Regions from separate parts of the Homo sapiens genome. Here region 2 is linked to region 1. Evidence: fine-mapped QTL for protein levels in blood plasma. A gene starts in region 1. The other region holds a variant in brackets. All regions are shown on one strand. Distances are between the middles of the regions.

Evidence for each region. A credible set is the group of variants that fine-mapping cannot tell apart. PIP is the posterior inclusion probability: the model's chance that the variant is causal. Protein levels are from antibody-based Olink assays in UK Biobank. Linkage for the fine-mapping came from a reference panel and not from the study's own genotypes, which makes the PIPs less certain.
Region 2: its variant is the best candidate, but not a certain one, in a credible set for the plasma level of the PLAT protein (UK Biobank, PIP 0.60). The variant lies in the coding sequence of PLAT. If it changes the protein, the assay may bind it differently, which can mimic a change of level.

Annotation. Positions count from the first base shown.
Region 1 is chr8:42,205,453-42,210,827 of GRCh38, reverse strand. PLAT (plasminogen activator, tissue type) reads left to right here and starts at 3,263. Exons shown (of 14, transcript NM_000930.5): 1 at 3,263-3,334. RefSeq lists enhancers at 1,725-2,243, 2,244-2,762.
Region 2 is chr8:42,184,300-42,189,674 of GRCh38, reverse strand. It overlaps PLAT (plasminogen activator, tissue type), which reads left to right. Exons shown (of 14, transcript NM_000930.5): 4 at 604-741; 5 at 1,659-1,769; 6 at 2,103-2,277; 7 at 4,503-4,594. Among named protein-coding and RNA genes, the nearest start is that of PLAT, 21 kb to the left of the region's middle. RefSeq lists enhancers at 1,470-2,040, 2,041-2,612. The variant C/T (reference allele first, on the strand shown) is at 2,228.

The DNA.
Region 1 (5,375 bases):
TGAGAATCTAGTGCCACTGCTGATCCAACCGGAGGTGCAGCTCAGGCAGTAATGCGAGTGATGGGGAGCGGCTGTAAACACAGATGAAGCTTCACTGGCTCTCCAGCCACTCACCTCCTGCTGCGCAGCCTGGTTCCTAACAGGCCACGGACAGATACCAGCCCATGGCCCCAGGGCCGGGGATTCCCAGTCTAGATGGAGACCTAGACAAGGCGTGCGACAATAACACCGATTTTAGATCCATCATGACATTTACCCCATCCCCTGCAAAGCCAGATGGCTACCAAAATTAAATCTTAGTTTAGACACAGAATGTCCGTCTTCTGGTCCAAAACATCCTTGTCATAAGTTTCTTGGCTGGGCGCGGTGGCTCACACCTATAATCCCAGCACTTTGGGAGGCTGAGGCAGGTGGATCACGAGGTCGGGGGTTTGAGACCAGCCTGACCAACATGGTGAAACCCCGTCTCTACTAAAAATACAAAAAAATTAGCTGGGCGTGGTGGCGGGCACCTGTAATCTCAGCTACTCAGGAGGCTGAGGCAGGAGAATTGCTTGAACCTGGTGGAGGTTGCAGTGAGCCGAGATCACACCACTGCACTCTAGCCTGGGCGACAGAGCAAGACTCTGTCTCAAAAAAAAAAAAAAGAAAATAAAAAAAAAAAAAACAAGTTTCTTGCCCACTCTTCCTTTCTCTGAGTTTCCAGAGACATCACATCATTTCTTACCCAGCTGAGCAGAGTCCCAGCATGGCTCTCGTTCGAATACCCATCCTGCCACCTGCCCCAGTGAGAAGGGTTGGAGCAGCCCCTGTTCTCTGCCCCCGCCACCTCCATGACTCATGCATTCTGTGGGGGAGGCGCCCACTGCAGAAACAGCCAGGCTGGCTGGGAAAAGCCCTGCAGCAATTCCCCGTCCAGTTTCTCTGTGCCCACTTTGTCTCCGTGTTATCTAGGCCTGGATTTATTTCTCTTTTTTGAAAATGAAGGGCTTTGATGAAATGTTCACAGGATGTGAGGTCACCAAGATTTTTTTCCTTTTTTTCTGTTCTTTTCTTTTCCTCGAAGTGATCCCTTGACTAAAATCAAGGCTCCCATTGTCACCTTATCAGCCTGCCCATGCCTAATTCTGCATTCTCAGGCTTCCCCAGAATCTGTCCGAGGGAAACCAATCTCAATTCAGAAGGAACACAGAGGCCCCAGTTTCTAGGGCTGCAGGATATTGCTGGGTCTTAATCATTCGGGTATATTTCAGCAAAGCTCAGGGCCCCTGCTAATGATCTGCAAACCCTCTCCTCTCAGTCTCCCGTTGTTTAGCCCCTATTTATAAGTGAGTGCATGTGGTTGTTCACTTTCTGTTTCTGAGTTATTTCAGTTAGGATAATGGTCTCCAGTTTCATCCATGTTGCTCCAAAAGACAGACTTCATTGTTTTTTACGGCTTTGTCGTATTCCTCGGTGTATATGTGCATTTTCTTTATCCAGTCCTCCATTGATGGACACTTAGGTTAATTCTGTGCCTTTGCTATTGTGAATTGTGCTGTTGTGAATTGTGTGTGATAAACGTGTGAGTGCAGGTGTCTTTTTGATGTAATGATTTCTTTTTCTTTGAATAGATACTCAGTAGTGGGATTGCCGGGTCAAATGGATGTTCTATTTTTAGTTTGGGAAATCTCCATATTGTTTTCCATAGAGGTTCAGGATCCAGGATTTAAGTGCAACCATTCAGTGGAAAACCATCCTCTCAAGAGTTCAAATGAGAGTCCTCATGACCAGCACTCCCTGCTGAACGGCAATGCCCCACCCCCCAAAAAAGCCTCCATCCTCACCATCTTAGACCACATTGCAGGAAAGCAGCCCCATGCCCACCAGACAGGCCCACAGCTGCTGCTGCTCATGGGAGGTCTACCTCCCGTGCTCAGCAGGCAACCCACCCCAGTGCCCCTTTTCTACAATGACCATCAGCAGGGCTGCAGCTTCATAAAAATGTGAAAAACAGTTTGAAAGCAATGTGAAAAGCAGTTAGGTGCCTTTCAACTTCAAACTCAGCACTCATGGTTTGACAAATATGAGTATATTTAGGATCAGAATGTATGAAATCTGGCCTCTCCTGAATAGTCGGTCATCCCACAATTTCCTCTGCCAAACTTCTCTTCCCTCCCTGCGTTCTTTCTTTCACCTCTCTCTCATTTTTACAAGGTCTGGTCTCAGCCAGACATGAACCAATGATGATAGATGCTCCTGCTGAGCCCTGTGATGTGCCAGGGCCCTGACATGCGTGGCTTCTCTCTGATCCTCACGTGACCTGCAGATGCAAAAGCCAGAGCTCAGCATAGTTGAAAATCTTGATTGAGGTCATATCCCAGTTACTGGCACAGCCGGATTTAAACCTAAGACTTTCCCCTACACGACAGGGCTTTTATTTCTCAGTCATCTGAAAAGGTGTCAGCAAGGGAAATGGCTTGTCTATTTCCAGGGGCATTTTACAAGCAAATACTGAAAGGCTTCGGTGGGCTTAAGGGCTGATGGCTTTGATCGAATTTCAGGCATGTTGGCCCCAAGGCCCTGTGTATATTCCCTGGGCCCACTCAAGGGGATGCTGGAGCCGGAAAGTCCCCGGAGGCCACCTACTGCAGCCCTGCACTTTACAAAGAAGAGAAAGATTCTCCCTAAAATTACAGAACAGGGCCAAAGATGCCTACCGGAGCAAACCCCCATGGGGGCACCTCCTACCGCAGGTGAGCCCAAGGCTGGTCCTGCCTTCTCAGTGGCTACCCCCCTGAGCTCCCGCCACCACACAAAGTGTTCCAATCCTTGTGCATCCTCCAGTCCTTTTAACCTCTCATGTCCTGAGAGGCCAGAGCTACAGCCACAGATTCCAGAAGACACCCCACTCCCAGCCCCAACCTGCTGCCTTTAGAATTATAAACACTTCTTGTCATCACAGGGTCCTGAAAGTCCCTTTTAAGCCTGGGACACTAGGACTCTAAAGGAAGATGATTCTTAAGGTCCCATCCCACTTCCAAATTCCTGCGATTCAATGACATCACGGCTGTGAATAATCAGCCTGGCCCGAAGCCAGGATGGGCTGTGCTGCTTCCACCGTGAACTTCCTCCCCCTGCTTTATAAAAACAGGCCTGCCTCAGCTCCCTCATGGCCCTGTCCACTGAGCATCCTCCCGCCACACAGAAACCCGCCCAGCCGGGGCCACCGACCCCACCCCCTGCCTGGAAACTTAAAGGAGGCCGGAGCTGTGGGGAGCTCAGAGCTGAGATCCTACAGGAGTCCAGGGCTGGAGAGAAAACCTCTGCGAGGAAAGGGAAGGAGCAAGCCGTGGTAGGTCGGGTTTCTGTACCTTGGGGTCTGTCTCCTCTTCTTTCTCTTAAAAGTCTTTCCAGCAAGCTGAGCCAGTGAAGGAATGCTTTAACCAAGGGACCAACTTTGTAATTCAGGCAACTAGAGGATCCGCTAGAATCCACTCCAGAGGGGAGATGTCTGTTTGCATTTGCATGTGATTGGGATAGGCTGGAGTGTTTTGGAGGGGAGAGGCAGTCGGGGAAAGGGAGACTAGGGAGGTTGCATTCATTGGAGAAGCCTCTGCTGACAGAGTAAAGGGGAAAGTGAAAAGAACGATACAGAAAAGCCCCAAATAGCCTATGGGAGTACCTCAAGACGAGCAAGCAATAAAAGCAAAATCGGCTGCCTTGGGACACGTGCCTGTGACAGCTGGGAGGGCCCGCTGGGTCCCCTAGTTTCCTCCCTCCCCCGATGAACCCCCAGAAAGGAACTGAGGCTGTGGATGGGGCAGAGGGGGACTTACTTCCAGAGCACTATTTGCTAGGTGCTGGGAGAGAGAAGCAGGTGGCTTTCACACCCCACATTACCCCGTGGGATAGAGAAATGCCTCTGATCTCCCTAGGTGCCACCCCTACAAGTCTCCACAGGTCAGTTTGGCCCTCTGGCTTTTTGCCCAGGGTGCATCAGTCAAGTGTGCAGTCCTCCTTAAAGGACATTTTAATTACAGGGGAAAAAACTGACATTAATGTCTTTTATTCCTAAAGCACTCTGCAGGAAGCATGTGGGGTTCTCCAGATTTTCACTGTTATTATCTTTATTTTCTTAACCTCACAGGGAGGGAGAGAGGAAGGGAGGGAGGGAAGACGAAAACACGCCGAGGTCCCAGGTAACTAATGACAACTCAAGCTCAAAGAAGTGTGGTAACAAGGATGTGTTTGGTGGCCAATTGGGAATAATATGGTGGTCTCCTGTAGCTGCTTGATGACAGAAAAAATGTCGTGTGTGTGTGTATGCGTGTGCATTGCAGTCCCGGGAAGGGGTCTTGCAAATACCATTGTCAGGTGGAGTCCCCTCAAAGGTGACTTCCTAGCAGTACTTGCTGTGGCAAGAACGCTCATTCTGGGATCTAGACTCAATCCATGACGGTCAGCATGAGCTGCTGGGTGCGTGCTTCCTGTGCAGGCAGAGTCGGACTCCAGCACTGGCAGGGACACTGTGAGTATTGAGATATGAATAGCTCCATCCTGCCCACCCATTTATTCCACCTAAAATGTTCTCAAAGATGCAAGCCTCCAAGCTCTGGATCAAATGATAAAGCCCCAGATCAAAATCTCAGGAGCAAATGAAAGCTGCCCTTGTCTCCAAAATGCTCCTTCTCTGCCCGACTCCCCAAGACCAGCTTGGTTTATTTCACAATGACTCGCGTCGGATTCTCCCAGTGTCTGCGGCTCCCCCTGCTTCATCACAGGCCTGGGACAGTCCAGGCAGCCAGGGAATAGCTGGGAATAGCAGTTCCCCTTTGTTGGTTTTTGAGTTCACTGAGGCTTTGATTTCCCCCAGGGCCTGACGTTGCTGAGCAGAGCCAGCGGCCAGTAGATTTCAAAGGATTCCAAAAAACAGTCAGGCACTCCTTTGTGAACCCAAAAGTATCTGAGACAGGTCTGTCAATTTAGAAAGTTTATTTTGCCAATGTTAAGAACACACATGTGACACGGCCTCTGGAGATCCTGAGGACATATGTCCAAGGTGGCCAAGGTATGGCTTGGTTTCATACATTTCAGGGAGACATGAGACATTAATCAATGTATGTAAGATGTGCACCGGTTCGGTCTGGAAAGGCAGGACAACTCGAAGTAGGGGCTTCCAGGTCATAGGTAGATAAGAGAAGGCTTCATTCTTCTGAGTCTTTGTCAGCCTTTCACTGAATACACAATTTACATATGAGAGGGGGGCAGAGGAAGAGTCACTTATGCCTTAGTTGGCTCAGTGAATCTACTTTTTTTTTTGAGACGGAGTTTCACTCTTTTTGCCCAGGCTAGAGTGCAATGGCATGATCCCGGCTACTGCAACCTCCACCTCC
Region 2 (5,375 bases), 21 kb after region 1:
GTGAGCCGAGATTGTGCCACTTCACTCCAGCCTGGGCGACAGAGTGAGACTTTGTTTCAAAAATAATAATAATAAATAAATAATAAATAAATAAATCATATGAGAAGATACTCAATGGCACTCAGAAAAGAAATGCAAATTTATTTTATTTTATTTTGAGATGGAGTCTTGCTCTGTCGCCCAGGCTGGAGTGCAGTGGTACAATCTCGGCTCACTGCAACCCCCACTTCCTGGGTTCAAGCAATACTCCTGCCTCAGCCTCCTGAGTAGCTGGGATTACAGGCACCTGCCACCATGCCTGGCTCATTTTTGTATTTTTAGTAGAGATAGGGTTTCACCATGTTGGCCAGGCTGGTCTCGAACTCCTGAGCTCAAGTGATTCACCCACCTCGGCCACCCAAAGTGCTGGGATTACCAGCATCAGTCACCGTGTTTGGCCAGTATTCATTATCTTGTTGTCTTCCAGTTGTGTCTCTTCAATAAGGGAGTATGCAATGGAGTCTATAGAAAGCAAGTGAGGGAGTTTTCTCAGTAGGTGCAAGGGTAGTGAGGCATTTCATTTTGAGTCATACTCTGATGAGGCTGGCCTGTCTTTTCTCATAGTGATCTGCAGAGATGAAAAAACGCAGATGATATACCAGCAACATCAGTCATGGCTGCGCCCTGTGCTCAGAAGCAACCGGGTGGAATATTGCTGGTGCAACAGTGGCAGGGCACAGTGCCACTCAGTGCCTGTCAAAAGTATGTACTGAGGCTGGGAGGTGGTGCATGCCTGTGATCCCAGCACTTTAGGAGGCCAAGGTGGGAGGGTCGCTGGAGCCCGGGAGTTCAAGACCAATCTGGGCAAACATAGCAAGTCCCCTGTCTCTACAAAAAATAAAAAAATTAGCCAGACCTGGTATGTAGTCCCAACTACTTGGGAGGTTGAGGCAGAAGGATCACTTGAGCCCAGGAGTTGGAGGCTGCAGTAATCTACGATTGTGCCACTGCATTTCAACCTCAGTGACAGGGCAAGCCCTCACCTCTAAAACAAAACAAAACAACACAAACAAAAACAAAAACACAGAAAAGCCCAGTACAAATCGACTTCAAACTGAGACTTCGAGTTCAGGGGTCCAGTCATGAACCCTGTCTTTCATGGTCCCCGGAAAGTTCAAATCTTCAAAAGGAGCCTCCAGGCCTGTTCGGCCTTAGGCGGAGGTGAAGGTACAAGCAGAAAAGGGAGCAAGACCAAGTGACCTTGGGCAAATGCCCGCTTGCCTCAGTTTCCTCATCTATAAAGAGGTGGGAATAACAGTACACACTTCATGGTTTGCTGTGAGGATTAAATTAGCTAATTTTTGTAGACTGTACAACAGCGCCTGGCACATAGAGCACATTCTTAATATTTTAACTCACATCATCCTTGGAGCTGCTTTGAAAATACAGGGGACCCTTGAACAACACTTGTCTGACCTGCAGGGTCCACTTATGTATGGATTTTTTTCAACCAAAGGCAGGATGAAAACAGTATTTGTAGGATGCAGAACTGGTATACGCGTGTTCCACGCTGCAGGACTTGAGTGTGTGTGGATTGTGGTAGACAGGGCTCCTGGAACCATGGCCTGAGCACACAGAAGGAGGCTGTCATTAGGGGCTTCCTTTTTTATACTTGACAGGTTGCAGCGAGCCAAGGTGTTTCAACGGGGGCACCTGCCAGCAGGCCCTGTACTTCTCAGATTTCGTGTGCCAGTGCCCCGAAGGATTTGCTGGGAAGTGCTGTGAAATAGGTGAGTAGGTGAGAGCACGTGAAACGAGCTGAAATCCCACCTCTCCAGTCTCCCCCGCCCCCGGAAGGAAAGGCAGGGTGCGATGGCAGGGCCAGGGGTGGGGGCCAGGGACAGGGAAGGCGCTTCTGCCATGGGTCAGGAAGCACAGTGCCACACAGCAAGCAGAGCCTAGGTGTGACCCTGAATCCAGGCTGGCACCCTTGCCACCCAGCCTGTGGCTTCCGAGCCAGCCTGCATCAGGCCTGGGGGAGGACGGGGCAGAGAGGGGAGCCTCCTGAGGGCTGAATGAAAGGGGACTCCCATGTGAGGCATCCATGCCCTGCTCTCTGTCAGATACCAGGGCCACGTGCTACGAGGACCAGGGCATCAGCTACAGGGGCACGTGGAGCACAGCGGAGAGTGGCGCCGAGTGCACCAACTGGAACAGCAGCGCGTTGGCCCAGAAGCCCTACAGCGGG[C/T]GGAGGCCAGACGCCATCAGGCTGGGCCTGGGGAACCACAACTACTGCAGGTGAGGGCACATCCCCAAGGAGGGATTCCCCCTGTGAGAAGCTGCTACAGCTGGGGAAAGATTCTGTCAGATCCGTCAGGGTTCTCCCAAGAAACATAACCAATACAGGATGGATAGATGGATAGATGATAGACAGATAATAGATGATAGGTGATAGATGATAGATTGATAGATGATAGATGATAGGTGATAGATTAGATAAATAGATGATACATACATGATAGATAGATGATAAATAGACGGTAGATGGATGACAGATAGACAGATGATAGGTGATAGATAGATGATAGATTGATAGATGATTGATAGATAAATAGATGATAGATACATAGATGATAGATGGTAGATAGATGATAGATGGATAGATGATAGATGATAGGTGGTAGATGATAGACAGATGATTAGAAAGATAGATGATAGATACATAGATGATAGACACATAGATGATAGACAGATTGACAGATGATAGATGATTGATAGATGATTAAATAGATGATACATAGATGATAATGATAAATAGATGATAGATGATAGATGATAGGTGATAGATAGATTGATAGATGATAGAAGATTGATAGATGATAGATACATAGGTGATAGTAGATGTAAGATGATAGATGATAGATAGATAGATGATAGACAGATTGATAGATGATAGAGAGATAGAGATAGAGAAAGAGGAGAGAGAAATAGAGAGAGAGAGAGAATGTGTGTGAACCCAAAGTATCTGAGACAGGTCTCAATCGATTTAGAAAGTTGATTTTGCCAAGGTTAAGGACACCCCCGTGACACAGCCTCAGGAGGTCCTGAGGACATGTGCCCAAGGTTGTCAGGGCACAGCTTGCCTTTAGACGTTTTAGGGAGTCATGAGACATCAATCAACATGTGTGAGATGTACATCGGTTTGGTCGGGAAAGTTGGGATAACTCGAAGCAAGGGCTTCCAGGCCATAGGTAGATAAGAGACAAAAGGCTGTATTCTGAGTCCTTGATCAGCTTTTCACTGAACACACAATTGAGTCTGGCTCAGTTCATCTGCATTTTTACATAAAAAATAGGGCAGAGGAAGCAATCAGATACGCATTTGTCTCAGATGAGCAGAGGGATGATTTTCTGTCCTGCACCTGGGAAGATAAGCTATCCATTTACAATGCCAAGGTGAAAGTCAACAGAACTGTTTTAGGGTAAAGATCTTTAGGCCTGCAAGGAATGTCCTTGTAGAGAATTAAAAAAAAAAAAAAAAAACTTTGCAGCTATCTTATTGAGGAATAAATGAGAGGCAGGTTTGCCTGACGTAGTTCCCGGCTTGACATTTCCCTTGGCTCATGACGTTGGGGTCCTGAGATTTATTTTCCTTTCACACTAGATAGATAGACATTTATGTTAAGGAACTGGCTGACAGGATCGTGGGGGCTGGCAAGTCCGAAACATCTTGGTAAGCCAGGCTGGAAGTGCAGGCAGAAGCTGAGGCTGCTCTCTTAAGGCAGAATTTCTTATTCAGGAAACCTCATATTTGCTCTTAAGGCCTTTAAGTGATTGGACGAGGCCCAACTACATTATCTAGGACAATTTCCTTTTCTAAAGTCAACTGGCTGTAGATATTAACCACATCTATAAAACACTTTCACAACTCCTAGATGAATGTTTGGTTAACTGACTGGGTGCCACAGCCTGGCCAAGTTGACATATAAGACTATTCCAGTCCACACCTTGTCAATTTGGCACCCATGTGCATCTCCTTAAACCATCCTTCACCTCCAAGTAAACACAGGAACAAAATCATACTCCTGCCTAACATGATAGAACTACCAGTGTACAACCAAAAACGCACTCCCGGCTGGGCGTGGTGGCTCACGCCTGTAATCCCAGCACTTTGGGAAGCCAAGGCAGGTGGATCACCTGAGGTCAGGAGTTCAAGACCAGCCTGGCCAACATGGTGAAACCCTGTCTCTACTAAAAATACAAAAATTAGCCAGGCATGGTGGCAGGCACCTGTAATCCCAGCTACTCGGGAAGCTGAGGCTGAAGAATTGCCCAAATCCAGGAAACGGAGGTTGCAGTGAGAGGAGATGCGCCGCTGCACTCCAGCCTGGGATAAACAGCGAGACTCTGTCAAAAAAAAAAGCACCCCCCATTCCTCCAGAAAAGGATACCAAAGTCCTTGGGTCCTAAAGGAGAGGCTTCACCTTTGACCTACCCTGGCCCTTCCCTTGGCTGATTTTTCAGAAACCCAGATCGAGACTCAAAGCCCTGGTGCTACGTCTTTAAGGCGGGGAAGTACAGCTCAGAGTTCTGCAGCACCCCTGCCTGCTCTGAGGGTAAGTGGCAGCCACCCCGCCTTTCCCTGAATGTCCCTGGGGGAGGAAAGTCCAGGAGGACAGGCCGATAGCCCTCCTGCACCTGAGGGGAGAAAGGGGGAGGCCAGGAGTGAGTCATTTTGGTTGCAGAGGGAAGAAAGACAGGACTTAGGTCTGTGCCTGGGCTTGGCCTCTGACTGGCTATTTGTCTGACCTGGAGCTGATCTCCTCACACTCTGACCCTCAATTTCCTCCTCTATGGAGGAGAGGATGGGGCTGAATCAGTGGTTTTCAGTCCTTTTGAGAATGAATGGAGATTCTCCCTTTTTTGATTAATGGGTGAATGGGGCTTTGTCTCTCTTTCGCTCCCTCTCAAACTTTTTAATGCAAAAAAAAAAAAAAAAAAACTTCCAAGATTGAAAAAATATATATTAAGTTACAAGACCAGGCACAGTGGCTTATGCCTATAAACCCAGCACTCTGGGAGGCTGAGGCGGGCGGCTCACCTGAGGTCAGGAGTTTGAGACCAGCCTGGCCAACATGGTGAAACCCTGTCTCTACTAAAAATACAAAAATTAGCCGGATACGGTGGCAGGCACCTGTAATCCCAGCTACTCAGGAGGCTGAGGCAGGAGAATTGCTTGAACCTGGGAGATGGAGGTTGCAGTGAGCCGAGATCATGCCACTGCACTCCAGCCTGGGTGATAGAACAAAAAACTGTTTCAAAAAAAAGAAAAAAATGAAATGCTAAGTTACAGAAAGGTACTATGAATTCAGTGGTGCTTATACAAATCATTACGTT